Linked DNA regions of Homo sapiens. The protein of the gene in region 4 purifies or fractionates together with the protein of the main gene of each other region. This does not show direct contact. Each region holds a gene or a part of one and is shown on either strand. Other genes may lie near its edges.

What was found.
Region 1: the proteins of P2RY8 (region 4) and ATP2B3 purify together in Homo sapiens (affinity purification with mass spectrometry; 3 studies listed by BioGRID and IntAct, with this or other methods). This does not show direct contact.
Region 2: the proteins of P2RY8 (region 4) and INTS1 purify together in Homo sapiens (co-immunoprecipitation; 2 studies listed by BioGRID and IntAct, with this or other methods). This does not show direct contact.
Region 3: the proteins of P2RY8 (region 4) and ATL2 purify together in Homo sapiens (affinity purification with mass spectrometry; 3 studies listed by BioGRID and IntAct, with this or other methods). This does not show direct contact.
Region 5: the proteins of P2RY8 (region 4) and ATP1A2 purify together in Homo sapiens (affinity purification with mass spectrometry; 3 studies listed by BioGRID and IntAct, with this or other methods). This does not show direct contact.
Region 6: the proteins of P2RY8 (region 4) and SPG7 purify together in Homo sapiens (co-immunoprecipitation; 2 studies listed by BioGRID and IntAct, with this or other methods). This does not show direct contact.
Region 7: the proteins of P2RY8 (region 4) and SERINC1 purify together in Homo sapiens (affinity purification with mass spectrometry; 3 studies listed by BioGRID and IntAct, with this or other methods). This does not show direct contact.

What each region holds. Positions count from the first base shown.
Region 1 is NC_000023.11:153,552,142-153,555,641, reverse strand, and holds part of ATP2B3 (plasma membrane calcium-transporting ATPase 3), read right to left. Parts: intron 2,608-3,500; coding exon 2,373-2,607; intron 1-2,372. UniProt on the Homo sapiens protein: ATP-driven Ca(2+) ion pump involved in the maintenance of basal intracellular Ca(2+) levels at the presynaptic terminals. Uses ATP as an energy source to transport cytosolic Ca(2+) ions across the plasma membrane to the extracellular compartment.
Region 2 is NC_000007.14:1,497,890-1,501,389, forward strand, and holds part of INTS1 (integrator complex subunit 1), read right to left. Parts: intron 2,478-3,500; coding exon 2,281-2,477; intron 2,133-2,280; coding exon 1,995-2,132; intron 1,744-1,994; coding exon 1,584-1,743; intron 1,472-1,583; coding exon 1,366-1,471; intron 1,273-1,365; coding exon 1,086-1,272; intron 964-1,085; coding exon 818-963; intron 665-817; coding exon 523-664; intron 1-522. UniProt on the Homo sapiens protein: Component of the integrator complex, a multiprotein complex that terminates RNA polymerase II (Pol II) transcription in the promoter-proximal region of genes.
Region 3 is NC_000002.12:38,300,774-38,304,273, forward strand, and holds part of ATL2 (atlastin-2), read right to left. Parts: intron 1-3,500. UniProt on the Homo sapiens protein: Atlastin-2 (ATL2) is a membrane-anchored GTPase that mediates the GTP-dependent fusion of endoplasmic reticulum (ER) membranes, maintaining the continuous ER network. It facilitates the formation of three-way junctions where ER tubules intersect.
Region 4 is NC_000023.11:1,527,186-1,530,685, forward strand, and holds part of P2RY8 (S-geranylgeranyl-glutathione receptor P2RY8), read right to left. Parts: intron 1-3,500. UniProt on the Homo sapiens protein: G protein-coupled receptor for S-geranylgeranyl-glutathione (GGG), an endogenous metabolite present in lymphoid tissues.
Region 5 is NC_000001.11:160,125,759-160,129,258, reverse strand, and holds part of ATP1A2 (sodium/potassium-transporting ATPase subunit alpha-2 precursor), read right to left. Parts: intron 1,708-3,500; coding exon 1,439-1,707; intron 874-1,438; exon of another isoform or gene 864-873; coding exon of another isoform or gene 738-863; intron 608-737; coding exon 409-607; intron 280-408; coding exon 170-279; intron 1-169. UniProt on the Homo sapiens protein: This is the catalytic component of the active enzyme, which catalyzes the hydrolysis of ATP coupled with the exchange of sodium and potassium ions across the plasma membrane.
Region 6 is NC_000016.10:89,511,403-89,514,902, forward strand, and holds part of SPG7 (mitochondrial inner membrane m-AAA protease component paraplegin isoform 1 precursor), read left to right. Parts: intron 1-1,545; coding exon 1,546-1,635; intron 1,636-3,500. UniProt on the Homo sapiens protein: Catalytic component of the m-AAA protease, a protease that plays a key role in proteostasis of inner mitochondrial membrane proteins, and which is essential for axonal and neuron development.
Region 7 is NC_000006.12:122,454,808-122,458,307, reverse strand, and holds part of SERINC1 (serine incorporator 1), read left to right. Parts: intron 1-1,657; coding exon 1,658-1,827; intron 1,828-3,500.

The DNA.
Region 1 (3,500 bases), about 150 Mb from region 4:
GGGGTTGAGAGCGGGAAGCCAGGAGACTGGCCGGGAGGTGGTGGCATTGTCCCAGTGGTGGGGGGACAGGGAAGACAGTTCCCAAATGAAGAGGTATGTGGCTCTTCAGGCTCGGGGACAGAGAGACAGGGTCAGGCAGCTGATGCCACTGAGGTAGACGGGCAGGGGGAGAGGAGAAGAGGAGCCAGGTTCAGAGTTTGGGAACCTGAATGAGGAGGTCAAGCCTAGGCAGTGGGGCTTGTGAGCACCGTCGGGTAAGTGTAGAAGCCTAGGTGTGGCCGAGCCGCCAGGCCTGGGGAGCCTGCGGCGGTGGGGAGTAGACACGCAGGAGTGGGAGCCAGGGGTAGGGCAGCCGGGAGACACCAGGGGAGGACATTGACCTGGGAGTCCCTGAATCCTGGCGCCCCCTGAGGCCATGGGCAGGGGGGCTGTGATCTTTGCCAGGGAGACAGCTGGGGGCCCCACTCTAAGCTGTGACAGGGTGATCCAATGGTTCCTGCAGCATATACCACTAAGTGGCCTCACTGCCAGCCTCGGGGACACTTCGTACTCTCTGAGGATCTTGGGGTGCTGGATAACAAGATCACGAGCCACAAGAAGACAATTCTCCTTTGAGCCAGCGAATGCCTGTCCCTGAAAAGTCTGGAAGCCACCCCTCTGCTGCCACCAAGTGGCCGTGACGAGCCTGAAAACCAGCAGCTGCGAACCCAGGCCTCCTCCCTCCTCAGGCCCAGTGTGTGTAGCCCAGTTCCTTCCCCATGGCCCCAAAGGGCCAGGCCAGGCTGTCCTTCCTCGCCTGCTCAGCCCTGCTCCCTGCCTTCTCCCCAAGGCCCCACAGCACAGCAGCCAGCCAGGTGTCTGGAGAAGTTGCCAGTGCCCCCGGCCGGCCCAGCTCCAGCATCAATACCACCCCAGCCACAGGCTTCCTATGGCTCCCCAGGGCCCAGCCTCACGGGCCCTCCTCTGGCTGCAGCCGTGCCGCATCTCCAAGCACCCTGGCGGTTTCAGTGAGGCCCTTGTGTCCTACTGCCTGTTGCCGGCACCCAGGACTTCGCTGGGCCTTCTGTGCGTCCTCCTCAGCCACCACCAGGCTGGCCAGTCTTTGTGGGGGTCTGCCCAGCCTCCGCAGCCTGGCCCTGTCACTGTGGTCTACCCCTTGGACTCTCTCTCAGCCACTCTTAAGCTGGAAAGGAGCTGTCCCTATTCCCCAGGCCCCTCTGGCAAGATTCCTTCCTCTGCTCTGTGCTTCAGTTGCTCCCTGGTCCAACAGAGGGACTCGATGGCTCCTGTCCCCAAGTGTGGCCTTGCTTCGCCTCACCAGCACCCTCTCCTTCTGCTCTCCCAGGCTCAGTGGGGCCCGGGACTCATGCCGCTGCCCGCCTTTGCGGGGCCCATTTCCCTCGCTGGACTTCTGTCCCCTGTCCTCCGCTACCACCCATTTTCTCCCAGGGCAAGCTCGAGGTGCTCCCTCTCTGGGCGCAGTGACCATGTTCTCCTCGGGGCACGGGGCTGCTCTGTTGACATGAGCCATGGCTGGCGTTTAGACGCACTGTCTTTGAATTGAGTGTTTTTGCTACATGATCCAATACATGAATGCCTGTCTCCCGAAGGAGAGCCCAGAAGCTTCTCCTCCCAGGTTGCACCTGCACCCCCAGGGTGGCTCCTACAAAGACAAGTTGTCAGGGTCACAGTGGCCCTGCTTGTGACACAGGTGGGTGCCATGCAGAGGCCCTGGGGAGACAGAGGGGCACCCCATGCCTTGCATTCTCCCTCCGGGGCCGGCCATCCTCCACACTCTCCAGGGTCTGGGATCTTTCAACAACAAAGTGACTTCCCAGTGTCAAGGCCATGGCATCTGCCACGCGGCCCTCGAGGTCCCCTCATCTGGACTCCCCTGGTGGCATCGTCCATATGGGGATATGCTTCTGGGCTCCCTTTCCCGCCAGGACCTTTGCTGTGAGCTCGCCACAGGACGTCCTGACCGTAGAGTAGCCCCAGCCAAACCCTCAACCAATAAACGCCCACCCTGTGCCCCAAACCTGTGTCCCCTCAGGCTTCAGCACCACCTCCAGTCCATCGGTCCTGGGTGGATCAGATCCCAAATGTCGACGGTCTCTCCGCCACTGCCACCTTCTCACCTGGTAGAAGGTGGAGCCTGAGCTGGGCCCATAGGTCAAGCGGGAAGGGCTTTCCAGCAGGCAGGACAGAGCCTTTGTGCGGGTGTCAGGGTGAGAGCACCCAGGACGGGGCTCAAGTGTACTACGGAGGGACCGCAGCAGCTGTGTGTGAAGGAAGGCCGCCCCTACCAGTCCGGACAAGCTCGGGCAGAGGGCACAGTTACCAGGGCAGCTCACAGAGAAGGTGGTGGCTACCTCGGGCCGCACAGGGTCCTCAATGCCCACGACAGCTATGCAGGTGAGGTCACCCACGACCTCATTCTCGTTGTCCCAGTCGGGCTCCTGGCCTGCAGAGAAGTCCCGGTAGGCGATGCAGATGGTGCGGAGGCCATCGCAAGCCATCGGCTCGATGATCTTCCTCACCATGTCGTCCCGGTCCCGAGGCCGAAAGCCCCGGAGTTCGCCATTGCTGTTCAAGATGTTGGTGCACCTAGGCAGGGGGTGGGCAGAGATGAGGTGGAGGTGGGGAGAGAACAACAAGGAACAGCGCTGGTCACACTGGATTGGGGGCTTAGTCAAGGACTGGGGTCCTTATCAGAGAGGAGTGCCCCGTGTGAGAACACAGACACACAGGGAGAAGGGCGTGTGACAACAGGCAGAGATTAGAGAGGGTCAGCTGCAAGCTGAGGAACGCGAGGACTGGCAGCCACCACCAGAAGCTGGAGGATGCAGGATGCATCCTCTCTGAGATGCTTTGGAGGCGCTTCGGCCCTGCCCACGCCCTGCTTTTGGACTTCCGGCCTCCAGAACTGGGGGAGAATCCATTTCTGTTGCTTGAGGGCACCAGGACGCTCATGCACTGCTGCAGGCTGAGAGACCGGGAGGGAGGCAGGAGCATGTGGCTCATGGCAGCTCCACCACAGACTTCATAGGGCAAGCGGGTGGAACCTGGGCAAAAACTGAAGTCTGTGGACAATCGCTATAACCACGTCCAGGCAGCCACAGCCTCAGTAGAGCGCTCATGACTCCAGGAGCTTCTCAAAAGGGACAGGACTTGGGAGGATTCAGGTGGGGAGAGGAGGGAGCAAAGGAGCCGAGGGTCACAGAGGCGGGCATGGTGGAAGAAGCCAGTGGGGCTGTGAGTGCCAGGTGCTGCCACTGCATGGGAGGCTGGTGACGAAGGAAATGATCATAACAGAAGCTGTGTGGACGGAGAGCCTCCTATGGATGTGGATTCACCCACGGAACCCTCACACCCCTCCCCAGAGATAAGTATTCTGTGATCTCCATGCCACCAGGGAAACTGAGGCATGGGAGTAAGGGGGAGTGAAGCTGGGCTGGGCCTTTTGTCCGCAGTGCCTCAGTGTCCCTCAGTGCCCACCA
Region 2 (3,500 bases), on a different chromosome or scaffold from region 4:
CCCTGCTTAACCGAGGGACCCAATGCACAGGAGGCGGGTCTGGGCCAGGCACAGGGGCTCATGCCTGTCATCCCAGCACTTTGGGAGGTTGAGGCAGGAGGATCGCTTGAGCCCAGGAGTTTGAGACCAGCCTGGGCCACATAATAAGACCCGGTCTCCACAAAATTTTTAAAAACTACCTTACTATCCAAAGGCAGGAATGAGCTTGAAAAATAAAAACAGAAGGCAACAGGTCTGGGTCTTAGCTCAGAAACCTGGGTGGCTTTTAAGACTCAATGTGGCTCCCTCCTAAATGGACAGAGTGTCAGTTTCTGAGAAAGACGCTGGGCGCTGTGGCTGCACCCACTCTAGAAACGGCTCAACCTCATGCCCACGTGAGTTTCAAAAGCTCCTTCCCGAGACCGAGGAGCATTCTCCCACGAAGCACTGCCAATCCACCGGCCTCCCCAGACGCCACGTGCCCCTCCAGCCCAGAGCCCCATATTCCGGCGTGGAGGGCAAGGCCAGGGACCCTGGGCCTACCTTGGGCGCCAGCTCTGAGCTGTGCTGCAGTGCGGTATAGAGGACCTGCATGTTGTTCGGGTTCCGGGCGCTGGAGAGCTCATTGAAGATCACCAACTTGATGGTGGTGCCCAGGTTGTCCTTGTGCGCGCTCAGCAGCTCCCTGGGTGAGGTGAGGGTACAGACCCTGTCCCCGCTACGCCTGTGCCCCCACTCCGCCTGTGCCCCCACTCCGCCCGCACCCCCGCTCCGCCCACACCCCCACCCACACCCCCACTCCACCCGCACCCCCGCTCTGCCCCGGCTCGCCACGCACCTGATGCACAGCATGAAGTGGTTGAGGAGGACCTTGGGCTTGAGGCGGATCTTGATCAGGTGTGAGATGACGTCCATGTCTTCGGAACCGTGCGTGTTGCAGTTCATGCAGACGGACATCAGCAGGTCCTGGGCCGGCCGGGTCAGCTGCGGGGCCGAGGAGGGAGCAGTGGGCTCACGGCCACCCCGGCAGGAAGACCACGCTGTGGGGCCACACAGAGCCTGCCCCCACCCCCTGCCCCGCCCACCCCCCCGGGGCGCCCCCGCACCTTGGGGTTCTGCAGCCACATCTCCAGCTTCTGCACCGCCAGCAGCCGCACCTCCTTATAGCCGCAGGTGGAGGTGAGGAGCCGCAGGAGGTTCCTGGAGACGTTGTCGATGGGCTGGCGCCGGTTCAGCTGGTCCCGCAGCATGTCCAGGACATACTCCTCCACGCTCTCCGCGAGCTCTTCGTACCTAGGCCAGAGGAGGGAGCGAGGAGGGAGGAAGGTGGCCCCGAGGCGCCCGCCCCCGCCGCCCCCAACTGGGACCGGGCAGGCACGCAGCTACCTGGGCATGAGCTGGCCCTCCTGCTCGGGGCTCAGCTTCTCCTCCGCGATCAGCAACTCCGTCTGGCTGTCCTCCTCCTCCGTGAGGGAGGGGTGTGGGCTGCTCCCTGCAAACCAAGGAGAGGGCTCCATGCAGCGCCTCCCACCCGCCCATCCTCCCACCCCTCCCCTGCCCTGGGGCTTGGACACCCGCCCTCTCTGGCTGGCCGTGTGTCTCACCTGCACCCAGGTCGCCCGCAACGCGGCCCGCCTCCCCCTGCAGCAGCACGCTCCTGGGGGGCATTCTGGTGTTGAAGGCCGTCTGGATGTTGTCCACAAACGTCTTACAGTGAGGGCTGTCCACCCAGATCCGCTCCCCCAGGGAGTCCTCGATGTACACCTGTGTGGCAGCCACACCCTCAGCCCCGAGCCCAGCCGGGCAGCAGCCAGGTTGGGGAACACCCGCCTGCTGCCCGGGGACTGGGTGCCCAGGCGGCCCTCTCCAGCTTCTGGGTGCAGCAGGGACCGTGCCATCACCACCAGGGCTGTCAGACACAGCCCTCTGGAGAGAACACACTTCTGCTTTTCTCTCGCCCCTGCCCCACCCCGTGGCGCTCTGCCATCTTCACCGTCCCGGGAGAGGACGCTCACCTTGACAAAGATCTCGGGCCAGTTCTCGTCCTCCTCGTAGGCGGCCATGAGGAGGTTACAGGCCAGCACAGACACCAGGCTGTTCCCCTTGGCCTTGAAGTTGATGGAGGCGTCCCGCCGCAGGAGGCTACACAGAGCCTGCCAGGGAGGGCGCATGTCACGTGGGAGCTTCGCTGGCCCCAGAGGCAAAGCTGGGGTGGGCCGGGAGGGACACTTAAGGGGGAGGTGAGGAGGGGAGCCAAGGGCCCCAGCGCTGCTCGCCTCCTGCCAGGGGCCCGGCTCAAACCTCAATGACGCCCTCAGTGGCGAAGATGTTGGGCTTGATCTTGGCCAGGTACATGAGGCTCAGGTAGAGGGTGCTGTCAGGCTTGGCGCGGGTGACCTTCAGCTGCTTCACGGCCCCGCACAGCACGCCCTCGATCCTGTCATCGTTGCCCTCCAGCTCGGCCGCCTCGATCTCATCCAGCAGCACCGTGGGCAGCACTGGCCGGGGCAGGCGGTACGGTCAGAACGGGGCCAGGGCAGGGTCACCCCAAAGCCTCGGGACACCGGGAAGACCACGAGGAACCCAGAGCTCTCAGGGTCGGCCCTGCCAGGGACCAGCGATCCACCCTCAGCAAAGTTCCCACAGCGGACAAGCACCCCACCAGATGGTCCCCTTAATACAACAGGCTGCCCCACAGGCCTCAGCACTAGCCCACCAGCCACTCCAGTCCTGGCTCCGCTGTGTCCCACACGACTACCCCAAAGGCTACAGACATTTCCCAGCAAGCCAGGCCACCTGCAGCTTTACTTTCCACTGAATCGTGGCTCCGTCTGGCGGCTTCTTTCTCACTGTGGACCGCAGCACAGTGGCCCTCTCTCCGCACCCACCCCAGCTCCAGTCTCCAGCATGCCCTTCTTCCCACTTTTCCTCCCTCTTTCCATGGGTGCTCGGCTCACAACCTTCCTCCAGACGAGTGCCTGACCCTCCCACATCCTCTGAGGAGCACCAGGGCCAGCACACACCTTTCCTATCGTCGTGTTTGCCACTGTTGGATCGGAGGTTTTCTCATTTTCATTCTGATTCTTCTCTGTCCCAACAGTTTTTTAGGACTGTGTTTTTAAATATCCACAAACGGCCAGGTGCAGTGGCTAGCACCTGTAATCCCACCACTTTGGGAGGCTGAGGCAGGTGGATCACCTGAGGTCAGGAAATCGAGACCAGCCTGGCCAATACAGTGAAACCCTGTCTCTACTAGAAATACACAAATTAGCCAGGCGTGGTGGTGCATGCCTGTAATCCCAGCTGCTTGGGAGGCTAAGGCAGGAGAATCATGTGAACCCGGGAGGCGGAGGCTGAAGTGAGCCGAGATCGTGCCACTGCATTCCAGCCTGGGGAACACAGCGAGACTCTGTCTCAAAAAAAAATAAATAAATAAATAAATAATAAATAATAAGTAAATACATATCCACACACATGTGGACAGAGGCATTGTGATCTACCTTAACTGCGCCCGGGACAGA
Region 3 (3,500 bases), on a different chromosome or scaffold from region 4:
CCAAGTGGCTGAAACTACAAGGTGTGTGCCACCACATCCAGCTGAAGAAACAATTTTATCCAGTATTTTACTTTGACCAGCTTAAATTGTATTTCAGCTCAAGAAGGAAAAAAAAAAAAAAAACTAATTTGTGGTTTAAGAGTAAGAAGGAAAAGATAAGAGTTTGTTAGAAGTCCATATAGGGTCTTTCATCTCAACTTTCTTTTTTTTTTTTGAGAAGGAATTTCGCTCTTATTGCCCAGGCTGGAGTGCAACGGCACGACCTCAGCTCACCACAACCTCCGCCTCCTGGGTTCAAGCAACTGTCCTGCCTCAGCCTCCCGAGTAGCTGGGATTACAGGCATGCGCCACCACATCCAGCTAATTTCGTATTTTTAGGAGAGACGGGGTTTCACCACGTTGGCCAGGCTGGTCTCGAACTCCCGACCTCAGGTGATTCGCCCACTTTAGCCTCCCAAAGTGCTGGGATTACAGGCATAAGCCACCGTGCCTGGCTCATCTCAACTTTCCACTGACAAGATTCATTCATAACTGGGAAGGAGGCAGAGCAAGATGGCCAAATAGAAGCCTCCAGTGATCACCACCTCCAAGGAATATCAAATTGACAACTATCTACATAAAAAACCACCTTCATAAGAACCAAAAATCAGGTGAGCAATCACAGTACCTGGTTTTAACTTCAGATCACTGAAAGAGGCACTGAAGAGGATGTGAAAAACAGTCTTGAATCACCTACACCACCCCTCCCCCATCCTCTCAGCAGCAACCACATGGTGTGGAGAGACAATCTATGTGCTTAGGGAAGTCGAAAGCAGTGACTGTGGAATTTTTGCATTGAAACTCAGCGCTGCCCTGCCACAGTGGAAAGAACTCAGCCAGCACCCATGGAGGAAGAATTTAGACCAGCCCTAGGCAGCCAGTCCTGCCACCATGGGCTACAGTGCTCTGAGGTCCTGAATAAACTTGAAAGGCCATCTAGGCCACAAGGACTGCAATTCCTGGGCAGGTCCTGGTGCTGGGCTGGGCTCAGAGCCAGTGGACCTGGGGTGCATATGATATAGTAAGACTCCAGCTGGGGCAGCCAAGGGACTGCTAGTGTCACTCCCCCTACACAAGCTCAGGCAGTGTAGTTCACAGCTCTGAGAGAGAGTCTTTCCTTCTGCGTGAGGAGAGGAGAGGGGAGAGTAAAGAGGACTTTGTCTTGCAATTTGGATACCAGCTCAGCCAAAGTAGAATGCGGCATAAGGCAGAGCCCTAAGGCCCCAATTTCAGTCCCCAGTTCCCAGACAAGATTTCTAAACACACCCTGGGCTGGAAGGGAACCCACTGTCTTGAGGGGTATGACCAAGTCCTGGCAGGGTTCATCACGTGCTGACTCAAGAGCCTCTGGGCTCTGAATAAGCAGTAGTGGTAGCCAGGCAGTACTCACTATGGGCCTTGGGTGAGATTCAGAAATGTGCTGGCTTCAGGTGTGACCCAGCACATTCCCAGATGTTGTGGCTATGAGGAGAGTCTCCTGCTTGAGTAAAGGAGACAAAGGCCAGGTGTGATGGCTCACACCTGTAATCCCAGCAATTTGGGAGGCCAAGGCAGGCGGATCACCAGAGAGCATCTCTGGACCCACCCAAGGCCAGAGGGAACTTGCTAGATTTGCCACCTGCTGATTGTAGAACCTCTGGGCCTTGACTGACCACAGGCAATAACCACACAATAGTCACAATGGGCCTTGGGCAAGACCCATTGCTGTGCTGCCTTCAGGTCTGACCCAGTGAAGTCCCAGGGATGGTGGCCACAATGGTGCTTGTGTCACCCCCTCCCCCAGCTCCAGGCAGCTCAGCACAGAGACAGAGACTCCATTTGTTTGGGAGAATGTAATGGAAGAGAACAAGAGTCTCTGCCTGGTAATCCAGGGAATTCTCCTGGATCTTACCGAAGAGCACCAAGGCAGTACCTCTACAAATCTGCAAGAGCCACAGCATTATGGGCTTGAAATGTCCCTAATGCAGATACAGCTGCAGTGACCAAGATCACAACACCCAAGTCCCTTCAAATAGTTAGAAAGCCTTCCCAAGGATGACAGGTACAAACAAGCCCAGACTGCAAAGACTATAACAAATACCTAACTCTTCAATGTCCAGACACCAACAAATATTCACAAGCATCAAGACCATCCAAGAAAACATGACCTCACTAAACAAACTGAAATAAAGCACCAGTGACCAATCCTGGAGAGACAGAGATAACTGACCTTTCAGAGAATTCAAAATAGCAGTTTTGAGGAAACTCAAAGAAATTCAAGATAACACAGAGAAGGAATTCAGAATCCTTTCAGATAAAGTGAACAAAGAGACTGAAATAATTATAAAGAATAAAGCAGAAATCCTGGATCCGAAAAATGCAACTGACATACTGAAGAATGCATCCAAACCTCTTTTTTATTTTATTTTTTTGAGACAGGGTTTTGCTCTGTCTCCCAGACTGGAGTGCAATGGTGCAATCCTGGCTCACTGCAACCTCTGCATCCCAGGCTCAAAGGATCCTCCTACCTCAGTGTCCCAAGTAGCTGGGACTACACGCGTGCGCCATCATGCCTGGCTAATTTTTGTATTTTTTGTAGAGACAAGGTTTCACCATGTTGCCCAGACTGGTCTCAAGTGATCTGCCCACCTCAGCCTCCCAAAGTGCTAGGATTACAGGCATGAGCCACCTCACCCAGCCTCAGAGCTTAACACAAGACCTGAACAAGCAGAAGAATTAGTCAGCTTGGAGACAGGCTATTTGAAAATACACAGCTGAGACAAAAGAAAAAAGAATGAAAAAGAATGAAGCATGCCTACAAGATCTAGAAAATAGCCCCAAAAGGGCAAATCTAAGAGTTCATTGCCTTAAAGAGGAGTAGCTAAAGAGACAGCGGTAGAAAGTTTATACAAAGCAATAACAAAGAACTACCCAAACCTAGATACCAATATTTAAGAACAAAAGATTATAGAACACCAAGCAGACTTGACCCAAATAAGACTACCTCAAGACATGTAACAAGCAAACTCCCAAAGGTCAACGGTAAAGAATGGATCCTGGCTGGGCGTGGTGGCTCATGCCTGTAATCCCAGCACTTTGGGAGGTCAAGGTGGGGGAACTGCCTGACCCTGGAGTTCAAGACCAGCCTGGACAACGTAGAGAAATGACGTCTCTGTTAAAAACAACAACAGGCCAGGCACGGTGGCTCACACCTGTAATCTCAGCACCTTGGCAGGCTGAGATGGGAGGATCACTTGAGGCCAGGAGTTGGAGACCAGCCTGTTAAACACAGCAAGGCCCCATTTCTATTAAACCACCACCACAACAACAACAAGAAGCACGAATGGATTCTAAATGCATCAACAGAAAAGAAACAAACAACATACAAAAGAGTTCCAACACATCTGGGAGTAGACTTCTCAGCGGAAACCTTACAGGCCAGGAGAGAGTAGCATGACATAAAGTGCTGAAGAAAAAAAACA
Region 4 (3,500 bases):
CGCCCAGCCTATTCATTCATTTCTTATCCATCCACCTACCTATCCATCTGTTCATCCGTCCATCTATTTATTCATTCATCTACTCATTCATTCATTCATCCACTTATTCATTCCTTATCCATCCACTCATCTATCCATCCATCCATCCATCCGTTTATCCATCCACTTATCCATACATCCACTATTCATTTGCCCATTCATTTATTCATGATCCATTCATTCACTCATTCATTTATCTATTCATTCATTCATTTATTCCTTATCCATCCACTCATCCATCCATCCGTTCATCCTTCAATCCATCCATTCAGTCATCCACCCATTTATCAATACACCCACTATCATTCACCCATTCATGTATCTATTCATTCAATCATTTATTCCTTATTCATCCACCTATCTATCCATCTGTTCATCCATCCATCCATTTATTCATTCATCTACTCATTCATTCATCCATCCAATCATCCCTTCATTCATTCATTCATCCACTCATTCATTCCTTATCCATTTACTCATCTATCCATCCATCCATCCATCCATCCATTCATCCATTCATCCACTCTTCATTCACCTGTCTACATATCCATCCATCCACTCACTAATGTACTAATCCACTCATTCACTCATTCATTCATTTATTCATTCACCCATCTATTTATGCAGCCATCCATTCAACCATCCAACAAACAGTACTGAGGCCATGTTAATCTATTCTGGTCTCTCATCTACAAAGTCACAGCCCCTACAGGGACCCTGCTCATTCATTCCCTGTGGCTGAGACTGAAGGGGTATCTCCTGTTTCTATTCCACGTGTGGCCACCTGCTGGTCTGTCCCTGTCCTGAGTGCAGGAGTAGTCTCATTCTCCTCCACCCCAAGAACAGATGAGTGATAAATAAATACCTGGAGACAGAATGCCTCCAACCCCAGGGTAATAGCCTGAGTATCCTAGAAGTTTCCTGTGTTCATGCCAAGAGCTTGTGATGGACATATGGACACTGTAGATGGACAACAGCGCCTTCACTGAGCAGCTAGTGCCTGGGAGGCCTCCAGCTTCACTGAGCCTCAGGTTTCATCTATTGCATCTCACAGAGAGGCTGTCTGCAACATGCCCATTTCAACCACTGGCTGAGAGGCTCATGCAGGTATGCATGTGACAGGGCTCCTTGCTGGAGAGTGGGTTCCTGGAGATTCCATCAGAGCTACTGCTGCACAACTGCCCCTTGAGGAGGCCATCACAGCTCTGAGCAGCAGGCGCTGCCAGTCAGCACCGTGTGAACTCAAAGTCTTGCATTCATCCTCATACGACATCTTCAAAACCACTTTAAACGTCCCAGGGAAGCCCGGAGGAGCAAGTGCTTCCAAGAGGCTGGCTCTGGTCTTTGGATTGAGTGTGGATTTGAGTCTCTTTGAATGAGTGTGGATTTGAGTTTCTTTGAATGAGTGTGGATTTGAGTCTCTTTGAATGCGTGTGGGTTTGAGCCTCTTTGAATGATTGTGGACTTGAGTCTCTTTGAATGAGTGTGGATTTGAGTCTCTTTGAATTCGTGTAGGTTTGAGTCTCTGAATGAGTGGACTTGAGTCTGTTTGAATGAGTATGGATTTGAGTCTCTTTGATTGCGTGTGGGTTTGAGTCTCTTTGAATGAGTGTGGATTTGAGTCTCTTTGAATGAGTGTGGACTTGAGTCTCTTTGAATGAGTTGGATTTGAGTCTCTTTGAGTGTGGATTGGAGTCTCTGAATGTGCGTGGATTTGAGTCTCCTCATTCCTGCACTTTTTCAGTTCCCTTTGTTGCATGGGACAGTATAAATGACGCTCCCCATTGATCCAGTTTTGCAAGTAAAAATGTCACATGTGGAAGCCAGCATTTAGTCCTCGGGCAGATAAGCATGTTTGATGAGAATAACACGTACACACAGCGGGGCCCTTGGTCTTGGAAAGGTGGAGAATAAATCCTCCATTTCCCCTGAGACCTGACCTGCACAGGGAATATCTGCTTAATCTACACATGTGTGGCTTGTAACGACAGAGTCTCTTCAATTCTACTTACTTTATTATAGTAACAAGAGCATGCATACAGCACATTGGGAGATGGAGAAATGGAAGGAAGTGATCCAGAGTCCCTTGACCCAGCCCATTCTCTCCCTGAGACCTGGGGGATGGGACATGATCTTGCTTCTCCTTCCAGGTCTCTGGAAGGATCATCTTGTCTTATCTTGCCTGCCTCTCACCCTGTGGTTCAGAATTGCGGGAGATTCTGTTCCAGTGGGGATGCTTGTCTATATCTTGGGCAGTTTGGGGTGTCACAACTGGAGGGTGTACTCCTGGGGCGTGGTGGGTGGAGCCTGGGAAGATGCTCAGTGCCCTGCAGTGCACAGGATAGGCTCAACACAGAGAATCCTCCAGCCCTACATGGCAGCAGTGCTGAGGCTGACACCCTGCCTGAGCATGAGAGAGTCTCTGTTAGTGACTATCTATCCATCTATATCTATCTATCATATCTATCATTTATCAATTTATCTATATATCATATCTAGCTCTCTGGCACCTATATCTATTTATTTATTAATCTTCTCTGTCTGTCATCTATCTATACCTTTCTAGCATTTATCTCTCATCTCTATCATTTATCTGCCTACCATTTGACAGTGGTTTCAACTAGGGGTGATTTTTCTCATCACGGCACACTGGGTAATGTCTGAGGACAGTTCTGGTTGTCGCAACTGTGGGGGTGCTCCTGGCATCTGGTGGGTGGATCCCGGGGATGCTTCTCAATACCTTACACTGCACAGGATGGCCCCACCACAGAGAATCACCCGGCCCCAAATGTCTATAGTGTTGACGTGGAAAGATCCTGCTTTTAGTATAGAGAATCTCTCCTCTCTCTCTCTCTCTCCGTCATCCATCTATGTATCCATGTATCTATGTATCTATGCATCTATGTATGTATGTATGTATGTATGTATGTATGATCTATCTATCTATCTATCTATCTATCTATCTATCTATCTATCTATCTATCTATCTATGTATCCATGTATCTATGTATGTATCTATCTATCTCTATTACCTATCATCACCATTATCTATCTATCTATCTATCTATCTATCTATCTATCTATCTGTCATCTATCTATATGTATGTACATATCTATCTATCTTATCTATTGCTCATCTATCTAGGTATCTCTCTAATCTATCATCTATCTCTCTAATCTATTAATGCACCTATGTATGTATCTATGTATCTATCTATCTAATCTATTTATCCATGTATGTATGTATGTATCTACCTATCTAATCTATGTATGTATGTATATATGTATCTAATTTATGTACGTACATATGTATGTATCTATTCTATCTATGTATCTATCTATCTGATTGATCTATCTCTCTATCATCACCATTATCTATCTATATGTATGTGTGTATCTATCTATCCTATCTATCTATCTCTCATCTATCTATGTATCTCTCTAATCTATCATCTATTTAA
Region 5 (3,500 bases), on a different chromosome or scaffold from region 4:
AAGAGACAAGAATTCAGTGTCAGCATGGGAGGGAAGGGAGTGGAGGATCAGGTGAAGGCGGCACTGAAACCCCCAAGGCAGCCACATCATGTGAGAAGGAAAGCTGGGGCCAGCAAGAGGCTTTGGAGACACCCCCAAAACATACCTGGTGTGTGTCCTGACCCCCTACCTTAGACACGGAGATGTTCTCCTGTCCTGCCTTGAAGACGGCGCGGTTGCAGAGACCAGCAATTCGAGACAGGGCCGTCCACGTAGGGGATCGTTTGTCAAAAGTGGCCCCTGGGAGGAAATGAGGGGGAACCAGGAGCGTGGCTCCCTTTAGAGCCTTTATCTCAACCACTCACCCCACCACGCCACTGCCCTCAGCCTCCTCTAATCCTATCCACCCCCTCTGGAGCACCCAATCACCAGACTGATCTTCGGTGGTGTCAGCCTCATGGATTTGGTTGTCGAACCACATGTGGGCGACGGTCATGCGGTTCTGGGTGAGGGTGCCCGTCTTGTCCGAGCAGATGGTGGACGTGGAGCCCAGCGTCTCCACCGCCTCCAGGTTCTTCACCAGGCAGTTCTTCCGTGCCATGCGCTTGGCTGTCAGGGTCAGGCACACCTGGTAGAGAAAGAGGAGAATAAAAAAGGTTAAGGCTGAAGCCGGAGATGGCCATAACCTTACCCTAGACCGTGGCTCCATTCCTCCTCCCCTGATTCTACTCCACTAACTTGAATGGGTGGGACTTAGCTGTAAATAATGAATGTTCAATTTTAGATGTGTTGAGATCATGAGTATCTGTTAAGATGAAATGCCCATTAGGGGGTTTAAGACGTTTGACTAGAGCTCCAGAGAGGGCCAGAGCAGAGCTGAGCATAGGGATGTCTGAGTCATCAACACAGAAGGGACACTGCAAACTGGGAGGAGATTGGCTCTTGCTCAGGGTGTAGGAAGAACAGACAGCTGAGGCCTGAGAATCAGTGTAGGGGGAGCAGGAAGGGACAGAGGAGAGGCGAACCAGGATAGTGACACATCACAGCAATCGACAAAAGAGAGAATGGTAGGAGGGTGGACAGCAGTATCTGTTTCAGCAGCAGAGTTAGGGAGGAGAGCTGAGAAAAGGTCCCTGGATTTGCTAGTTAGTGACTGGTGACCTTTGAGACAGCCTCTACAGGAGACTTGGACGGAATGAGACCCAGACTGCTGGCAGATCGTGAGAAAAGGCAGCCGTGACAAGCTCCAAAAGAGAAACTGAGTGCCTAAGAATAGCCCCACCTGAGATTTCTCAACTCATACCCTAAGCCATGTATTAAGTGATCTCTGAGTATCGCATCCAATAAGTGACTCTAGGGGGAAAAAGTAGTGAGAAGCTACAAGCAACTGTGCCTCTATCACTCTGAGGAAAGAGTAGTGAGACCCTCCCCTGGTGGCACCTCAGCCTGACCCACTCACAGTGACAGTGGCCAGAAGCCCCTCAGGCACGTTGGCCACTATGATGCCGATGAGGAAGATGACTGCCTCCAGCCAGCTGTAGCCCAGGATGAGGGAGAGCACGAAGAAGGAGACCCCCAGGAATACAGCGACCCCTGTGATCAGCTGGATGAAGTGTTCAATCTCCATTGCTATGGGTGTCCGCCCAACCTCCAGGCCTGAGGCGAGAGTAGCTATGCGGCCCATCACCGTCCGGTCTCCTGTGGCAATCACAATGCCCCTGGCAGTGCCTGCAACATGGTGGGGCATCAGGTTGGGTGCCTTGTGGCTCCCAGGGACTGCAGTCCCATCCTATTTCCTGAGCAAGGAAAATCATCACAGGATAGGTGAGCCAAAGCCGCAGATCTGGAGGCCACATTCAGTAGGTTGTCCCCACTTGGCCTTCCTTTCCCTGGATAGATCGCCAATCCTTGAATCAATACAACAGCAAATTATTTTCTCTTGTACTCGAGCCTGGGGAGAAGCTTGCAAATAATCTCAAAGTTCAAATAGACAAGATTCAATAAATAAAAATTGCCTGTGGCATTTTGGTAAAATCATTCCCATACTTGATACCATCCAAAAGTATATTATGAACACAAAGTAAAGCACTCATTATGGATTTTCCATCCAGTCTTAAGATTTTCTTTCTCAACATTAGGCATGAATCTCTATAGAGGAAGCCAGGCAATTGCTAACCCTTGTGTGACATTACAGGGGTCTTCTGGGAAGGAAGGGTGGTGTATTGAAAAAAGCATGCACATTGGAGCCAGCCAAATTTGGGTTTGAATCCTTATTTGAATTCCTATCTCGGTGCTGTTTTAATATTTAGATGAGATTGTGCTTTAATATACTTAGGCCAGTGCCTGGAACATAGCGGGTGCTCAACAAATATCTCATTTATTTCCTTTCCTCTTTTCAAAGCCAATTGCAGAGTAAGCAATAGGAATGTATTACTAGGCATTTCTGAATAAATCAATTGTGGGAAATGTAAATTTCAAAATCTCAGTACATTAAAAATTTAGGAAATTTGGCCAGGCTCGGTGGCTCATGCCTGTAATCCCAGCACTTTGGGAGGCTGAGGCAGGAGGATCACTTGAGCCCAGGAGTTTGAGGCCAGCCTGGGTAACATAGTGAGACCCCATCTCTAATATACATATATATATATTAGCTGGGTGTGGTATCACGCGCCTGTAGTCCCAAATACTCTGGAGGCTGAGGTGGGAGATCGCTTGAGCCTGGGAGGTCAAGGCTGCAGTGAGCTGTGATTGCACCACTGCACTCCAGTCTGGGTGACAAAGCAAGATCTTGTCTCAAAAGCAAAACAAAAAACAAACTTAGGAAATGTAATGTGTGGTGATTTTTATTTGTACAGTTGGCCCTCCATATTCACAGATTCCATGTCCATAGATTCAACCAACCTCAGATCGAAAATATTTGGAGCTAAATAAAAATAACAATACAACAATAAAAATAATACAAATTTAAAAACAAAACAGTATAAAAATTACATTGCACTCGGTATTATAAGTAATCTAGAGTTGATTCAAAGTATATGGGAGGATGTGCGCAGATTATATGCAAATATTATGCGATTTCATATCAGGGCCTTTGAGGATCCTTAGATTTTGGTAACGAAGGGGGTCCTGGAACCAATCCCTCATGGATTCCAAGCAGTGGAATTCCAACTTGTCGAAGAAGGGAAAAAAACCACAGAGAAACATAATACACTGAGGAGAAATGAGTAATGGACAGGGGAAGTGTGGATTGGGATATGAGGCCTCCTTTGCCCTATTTTCAGAGGCCACTGGTCTAGTGAGGCCTCTTTCTGTCTCTTCCCTCCTACTCCTTCTCTGATGCAGCCCTGACTCTGCTCACTGGCTTTACCACAGAGGGCACAGGTTTCAGTTGTGCTTGGACCCCTGCCATTAAGTGATGGCAGCTCTGGGAGTTCTTATTGACCTTTGTTTATCTCTAGAACCCAGAACAGGGATGGGGCAAACTGGGTAGTCTGTGCATGGTGAAACATGTCTTTTGATGTAAC
Region 6 (3,500 bases), on a different chromosome or scaffold from region 4:
TTTCACGCTCCCCTTTATGGAGTTGGAACAGGGAAAAAGTAAAATATTTCTACTCCTAACTAACATTAAACAGCTTTGTGCCAACACATGGGTAGGGAGAGTGCCGTGCCCACTGGCCGTGCATCAGCAACTGGCTCATCTGCTGTCAGTGTTTAACGTCAGCTCACGGGTGCCTGTGGCTGTGAAACAGGAAGCACATGCTTCAGCCTCCTTAAGCCTGAGGTGACATGCAAGTGGCAACCGGGGCCGTTTCACTGGTGAACCCGTTCATGTCTTTGTGAAGAAAGTTACATTTCAGGTCATGGTTGTGAAACTCTTTCCCTATTTTTATTATTTTTTATTATTATTTGAGATAGGGTCTTGCCCTGTTGCCCAGGTGCAATCTCTACTCACTGCAGCTTCAACCTCCTGGGCCCAGGTTCTCCTCCCACTCAGCGTCCTGAGTAGCTGGGAAGTCAGGCATGTGTCACCACGTACAGCTACATTTTTGTGTTGTTGTTGTTGTTGTTGTTTATTATTATTTTTTTGAGACGGAGTCTTGCTCTGTCTCCCAGGCTGGAGTGCAGTGGCGCGATCTCCGCTCACTGCAAGCTCTGCCTCCAGGATTCCCGCCATTCTCCTGCCTCAGCCTCCCAAGTAGCTGGGATTACAGGTGCCCGCCACTATGCCCGGCTAATTTTTTGTATTTTTAGTAGAGACGGGGTTTCACCATGTTAGCCAGGATGGTCTCGATCTCCTGACCTCGTGATCCACCCGACTCGGCCTCCCAAAGTGCTGGGATTACAGGCGTGCGCCACTGCACCTGGCCTCCCCCATTTGTAAACGCTGATTTGTTCAGATTTTGAGACAGCTCTGTGTGAGGAGTGTCGTGCCGGCCCCTCTTGGTGGTGGCTGGGCTGCTGCTGTTGCCACTTGTCTGGAAACCATTTGTGAGTCGGAGTCTTGCTCTGTAAACCAGGCTGGAGTGCAGTGGTGTGATCTCAGCTCACTGCAACCTCCGCCTCCCGGGTTCAAGCAATTCTGCCTCAGCCTCCCAAGTAGCTGGGATTACAAGCGCCTGCCAACACGTCCGGCTAATTTTTGTATTTTTAGTGGAGACAGTGTTTCACCATCTCAGCCAGTCTGGTCTTGAACTCCTGACCTCGTGAACCACCTGCCTCGGTCTCCCAAAGTGCTGGGATTACAGGCATGAGCCACCACGCCTGGCGTGTTTAAGTTCTTTTAAAGCAACTTCATATATTAAAGGGATTCGTGATATTTTCCCAAATTTGTGTTCATAACTATTTTTTATTCCCTCACATTAGCAATTTAAGTAGCAAAGATATTTAACGTAAGTTAAAATAGTTTATTATTTTGTAATTAGGAAATACTGGACTAAGTGATATAGGATATGCTTTATTTCATATTTATAAATCTTATGGATATAAGTAGGTTTTTCAGATGGTTTTTGTTTTGCTTTGGTTATTTAGGAGTACACTGTTGTCCTGTATGCCTCCCCTGTGGTTGCAAAACTTAATTGTTAAATCCTTTCTCTATTTCTCATAGGTGGTACTTTCTATTTTAACACCTCAAGGTTGAAGCAGAAGAATAAGGAGAAGGATAAGTCGAAGGGGAAGGCGCCTGAAGAGGACGAAGGTATATTCATCTGATGTTCTTCAGTCAGTAGCTGCCTCTGGATGTCTTTACATTTCTGTTTTCCTTTTAGCAAGGTGAAACCAGTCTGGAAAATGGGGAGATGGGCCGGGTGCAGTGGCTCACACTTGTAATCGAAACGCTTTGGGAGGCCCAGGTGGAAGGATCACTTGAGGCCTATACCACATAGCGAGACCCTGTCTCACTGCAAATTAAAAGGCTGGGCGTGGTGGCTCACACCTGTAATCCCAGCACTTTGGGAGGCTGAGGCAGGCGGATCACCTGCACCCTGGCCAACATGGTGAAACCCCGTCTTTACTAAAAATAGAAAATTAGCCGGGCGTGATGGCACACGCCTGTAATCCCAGCTACTCGGGAGGCTGAGGCAGGAGAATTGCTTGAACCTGGGAGGTGGAGGTTGCTGTGAGTGGAGATCATGCCATTGCACTCCAGCCTGAGCAACAAGAGCAAAACTCCATCTCAAAAAAAAAAAAATTTAAATTTAAATTTAAAAAGACCCTATCTATACAGAAAGAAAAGAAGAAAATAATTGGCCAGGCGTGGTGGTGTGCACCTGTAGTCATAGCTCAGGAGTTGGAGGAGCTTGAGCCCAGGAGTTGGAGGCTCAGCTTCAGACTCACAGCCCCAGGGGGCAGAAGGGTTGAACTCAGCTTCAGGAATGCTTTGCTTTTGGATCCTTGAGGCCTCTCGCTGGAAATCAGCGTTGTTAAGATGGACGCCCTGCTCAGCAGAGCTCATCTTTCTAGAAAGGCACCTGGCCTTGGAAGGCGAGTGAGGAACTGTCATAAGGACTTTTTCTTCCCATGTTGCTTTTCAGGAAAGCTTTCAGGATGTGGAAATGATGGTTCAGCTATTGGATGAGGGGATTATTATTGTGAATTCGAGTTTAGCAGGAGTTTGTTTCAGGAGTGACGTCCTTCTTGATTGATTTTGTGTGAGACGCTGCATTTGCCAAGGCCAGGGACAGCTTTACTCTGTGAGAGAGGAGCTCTGACTCTCCCTACTGAGCTCTCGAGGGGAGGTCATAACTGCGGGAAGGGACACCAGTGTTTCGCAGGTGGATTCAGTTTAGGCGTTTCTGGCTTTAGGCTCATCTTCAGCTTACTGTTGGTTTTACGGTAAGTGTCAATGCTTACAGCCACTCAGAACTATCTTCTAAAAGACTTCTGAATCTTCATACAAAATTGTTCTGAATTGATTTCAGGGCTCTTTCCCTGTATACTTCAACATTTCAATAAAGTGTGTCCTTTGACTTTTTTTTTTTTTTTTTTTTTTTTTTTTTTTTGCCAGAATCTCACTCTGTTGCCCCGGCTGGAGTGCAGTGGTGCGATCTCAGCTCAATGCAACCTCCCCCTCCCGGGTTCAAGCAATTCTCCTGCCTCAGCCTCCGAAGTAGCTGGGATTACAGGTGCTCACCACCACACCCTGCTAATTTTTTGTTTTTTGTTCGTTTGTTTGTTTTTGAGACGGAGTCTCGCTCTGTCGCCCAGGCTGGAGTGCAGTGGCACAATCTCGGCTCACTGCAAGCTCCACTTCCTGGGTTCATGCCATTCTCCTGCCTCAGCCTCCCTAGTAGCTGGGACTACAGGCACCCGCCACCGCACCCGGCTAATTTTTTTGTTTTATTAGAGACTGGGTTTCACCATGTTAGCCAGGATGGTCTCGATCTCCTGACCTTGTGATCTGCTCACCTTGGCCTCCCAAAGTTCTAGGATTACAGGCGTGAGCCACCGCGTCAGGCCCTCTTTTTGTATAGTAGAGATGAGGTTTTGTCTTGTTGGCCAGGCTGGTCTCAAACTCCTGACCTCAGGTGATTCACCCACCTTGGCCTCCCAAAGTGCTGAGAT
Region 7 (3,500 bases), on a different chromosome or scaffold from region 4:
CAGAAAGAAGTATAATTCTAACCAGGTGTCAGAATCTCAATGGGTCATGGAAAAAAGGATGTTCTAAGAATGATTAGAACTTGCATATACAGAGATTGAAAAATAGAAAGCATAATGAGTATAAAAGAGCTTTTCAAGCAAAGTATCTATACTTTAGGAAGATTAATCTTACAATTAATAAAGTATAAAAGTCAAGCAGTTAAATATGGAGGCTGTTGCAGTGGTATAATCAAGAAGAGAATAGCGGACCTGAAATAAGATTTTCTGGATGTAAAATTGACTGAGCCTAGCACTGAAATATTGGCAGTGATATGGAATCATAAATAACAACCAGGTTCTGGTCCTACAAAACCGGGAGGAAAGTATTGCTATTAACCTAGAAAGGAAAATTTTTAGAGAGAGTCAGGTTGTGGAAGGAGATTGGGAACACATAATAAATTTAGTTTCTAACATGTTGACTTGGTGGTATTGTATCGTGTACATGTATATATATATATATATATGTATGTCTTACTCAGTTCAGGCTGCTATAACAAGAATATCATAGGCTGGGTGGCTTAAGACAACAAAAATTTATTTCTCAGTTTTGGAGGCTGAAAGTCCGAGATCAGGGTGCCACCATGGTCAAGTTCTGATGAGGATCTTATTCCTGGTTTACACATGGCCATCTTACATTTTTGAAAGAAAGCAGCAGCTCTCTTCTGTCTGTTTTTATAAGGGCATTAATCCCATCCTGAGGGCTCTACCCTCATGATTTAATTACCACATAAAGGCCCTATCTCCCACTATCCTCCCATTGAGGGTTAGAGTTTCAGCATTTAATTTTGGGTAGACACAAACACGAAGTCCATAATAATATACAGCAGTAAGTAGAAAACATGAAGGAATTTAAAAGAGAAATCAGAGCTAGAGACTGCCTTGAGGATAGAAATTGAATGTTGAAACCATGGCAGCGTATGCTGAAGATCATTCAGAGTGAGCAGAGCTAGAACTCTGCCAAAATCTCTTACTTAAGGGAGTTAGTGGAGAAAGGAAAACCTGATTCTGATCCTAGAAAACTGGGAGGGAAGGGATAACAGAAAAGAACAAAGAAAATGTATAGGTTCTAGGAAGAAAGTTTTAAGAATGACAGGGATAGTGTCTATATAAAAATGAGATTAAGGAATGTGATTAAGCAGTAGCCTTTGGGTTTGGAAACCAGTACATGACTAGTATCCTGGAAAAGCAGTTTTTTTAGAGTGCTGGGACTGGAAAGAGTGGGAGGAAATAATTTATTCTTATATATATGAATAATAGATGTATTAATAGTTCTGAACAGTAGTCTCAGAAATAGCACTTACACTACTAAAACAAGTCTATCGTGCTATTCAAGTAGAATGCAAGTTTTTAAAATGTAGGATAAATCTATAACTCAAAATAAGCAACCAGCATAGAGTTGGTATTGTAGTTTATGATTTGCGCAGATGGGGATTTAACTCTTTTTTCCCCACTGTATGTGATTAAAATGTATCAGACTCATCTTGAGTACATATTCATCATAAATTGTAAAGCAAATGCCAGTTTTCTAAACCTTTACTTAAACTATTTGATTACATGTAATTTTTATTTTTACTTAATGAAAAAAAATGATGGATCATAAACTCTTTTGTTTTTCTAGATTCCTGGATTTTGTGAGAATGAGAAAGGTGTTGTCCCTTGTAACATTTTGGTTGGCTATAAAGCTGTATATCGTTTGTGCTTTGGTTTGGCTATGTTCTATCTTCTTCTCTCTTTACTAATGATCAAAGTGAAGAGTAGCAGTGATCCTAGAGCTGCAGTGCACAATGGGTAAGTTTTTAAATAAGCTTCAATATAAAAGCTTGGGTAGCCTCTTCTTGATAATTGCCAGTTTATCCAAGGAAACTTTAAGGTAAAATAAACTTATACAATTTGCAGAATTACTTTATTCATGAATGACAGGATAAGAAAATCTTGTTTTTACTGGAGAATGTCAGACTTTGGATATTAAATAATAGCTGTGATAACCTCTGATCCACAGTGTTTTATATTTTCATACTAAAAAAGAGGCTCTATTATATTTGTGACTACTAAGGGAATAGCTATTTCTCCTTCTACTGTTAACTTTAGGTGGACCAGTCCACTTACATAGAACTCTCAGTTCCCTAGACCCAGAGAGCAGATTTTTCTAGGTTGGTTGTATTGGACAACCCAGAAAGAAACTTCAGGGTTTCTTTTATCAATCTTCCTTCATATAGAGCACTACTTCTGGTACCCTTATTTGACTGTTTTAATATCTGCTGTTGCTTATCTAGTTATATGTGCTACCAAAGACAAAAAGTATAAACAAGTAGAATATAAATATTAATGAGAAAATATGTGACGGGTTGCTTTTCCTTTATTTTGTTCCTTTGGTCATTGATTATTTTATTAAATTATTAGAGTTTTAGATGGAGGCATTTATCATGTGTTTATAAAAACTATTCATTTATACAGTTCACCTTATACTTTGATACATTATCCCACTTATGTGAAATAAGCCTGTGAAATGGAACTAACATTCTCATTTTTCCATAATGAATTAGTGAGAAATACATCTTTCTCAAAATGGTCTTAAAAGCAGTTTATGTAATTGTTGTTTTTTCTGATAATCAAGTGTATTAGGGTTCTCTAGAGGGACAGAACTAATAGGATAGATAGATATATATAAAGGGGAGTTTATTAAGTATTATCTCACATGATCTCAAGGTCCCACAATAGGCCATCTGCAAGCTGAGGAGCAAGGAGAGCCAGTCCTAGTCCCAAAACTGAAGAACTTGGAGCCTGATGTTCAAGGGCAGGGAGCATCCAGCACAGGAGAAAGATGTAGGCTGGGATGCTAGGCCAGTCTAGTCTTTTCACTTTTTTTTTTTGCCTGCTTTATATTCTAGCCCTGCTGGCAGCTGATTAGATGGTGCCCACCCAGATTAAGGGTGTGTCTGCCTTTCCCAGCCCACTGACTGAAATGTTAATCTTCTTTGGCAACACCCTCACAGACACACCCAGCATCAGTACTTTGCACCCTTCAATCCAATCAAGTTGACACTCAGTATTAACCATTACAAGTCAGTACTTTGCATCCTTGAATTCAATTGACACTCAGTATAACTATCAGAAGTCTACCCATTGTCAACTTGAACCCGTATACATCTCCTGAGATCATACATAATCTGCAAATAAAGACAATAATAAGGTCATACAACTAACCTTACAACTGAAAACGCACCAGTCCCCAACCAAAATACTAATTACATAAAGTTAACAATACTTAAATGCTGATGTGAAGTCAGTAAATCTTATGTCACATGATAAAGGAGAATGGAAATAAAATGAAGATATTTTCTTAGTACAAGTATATGCATGCATGAACATGTTTTTGACAAAACAAGGAGGAAGTACTCACAACAATTACAGCCCTCGTTTCTGCAGCTGGACATGTGGTCATAGCTGGTATTGATGACTGC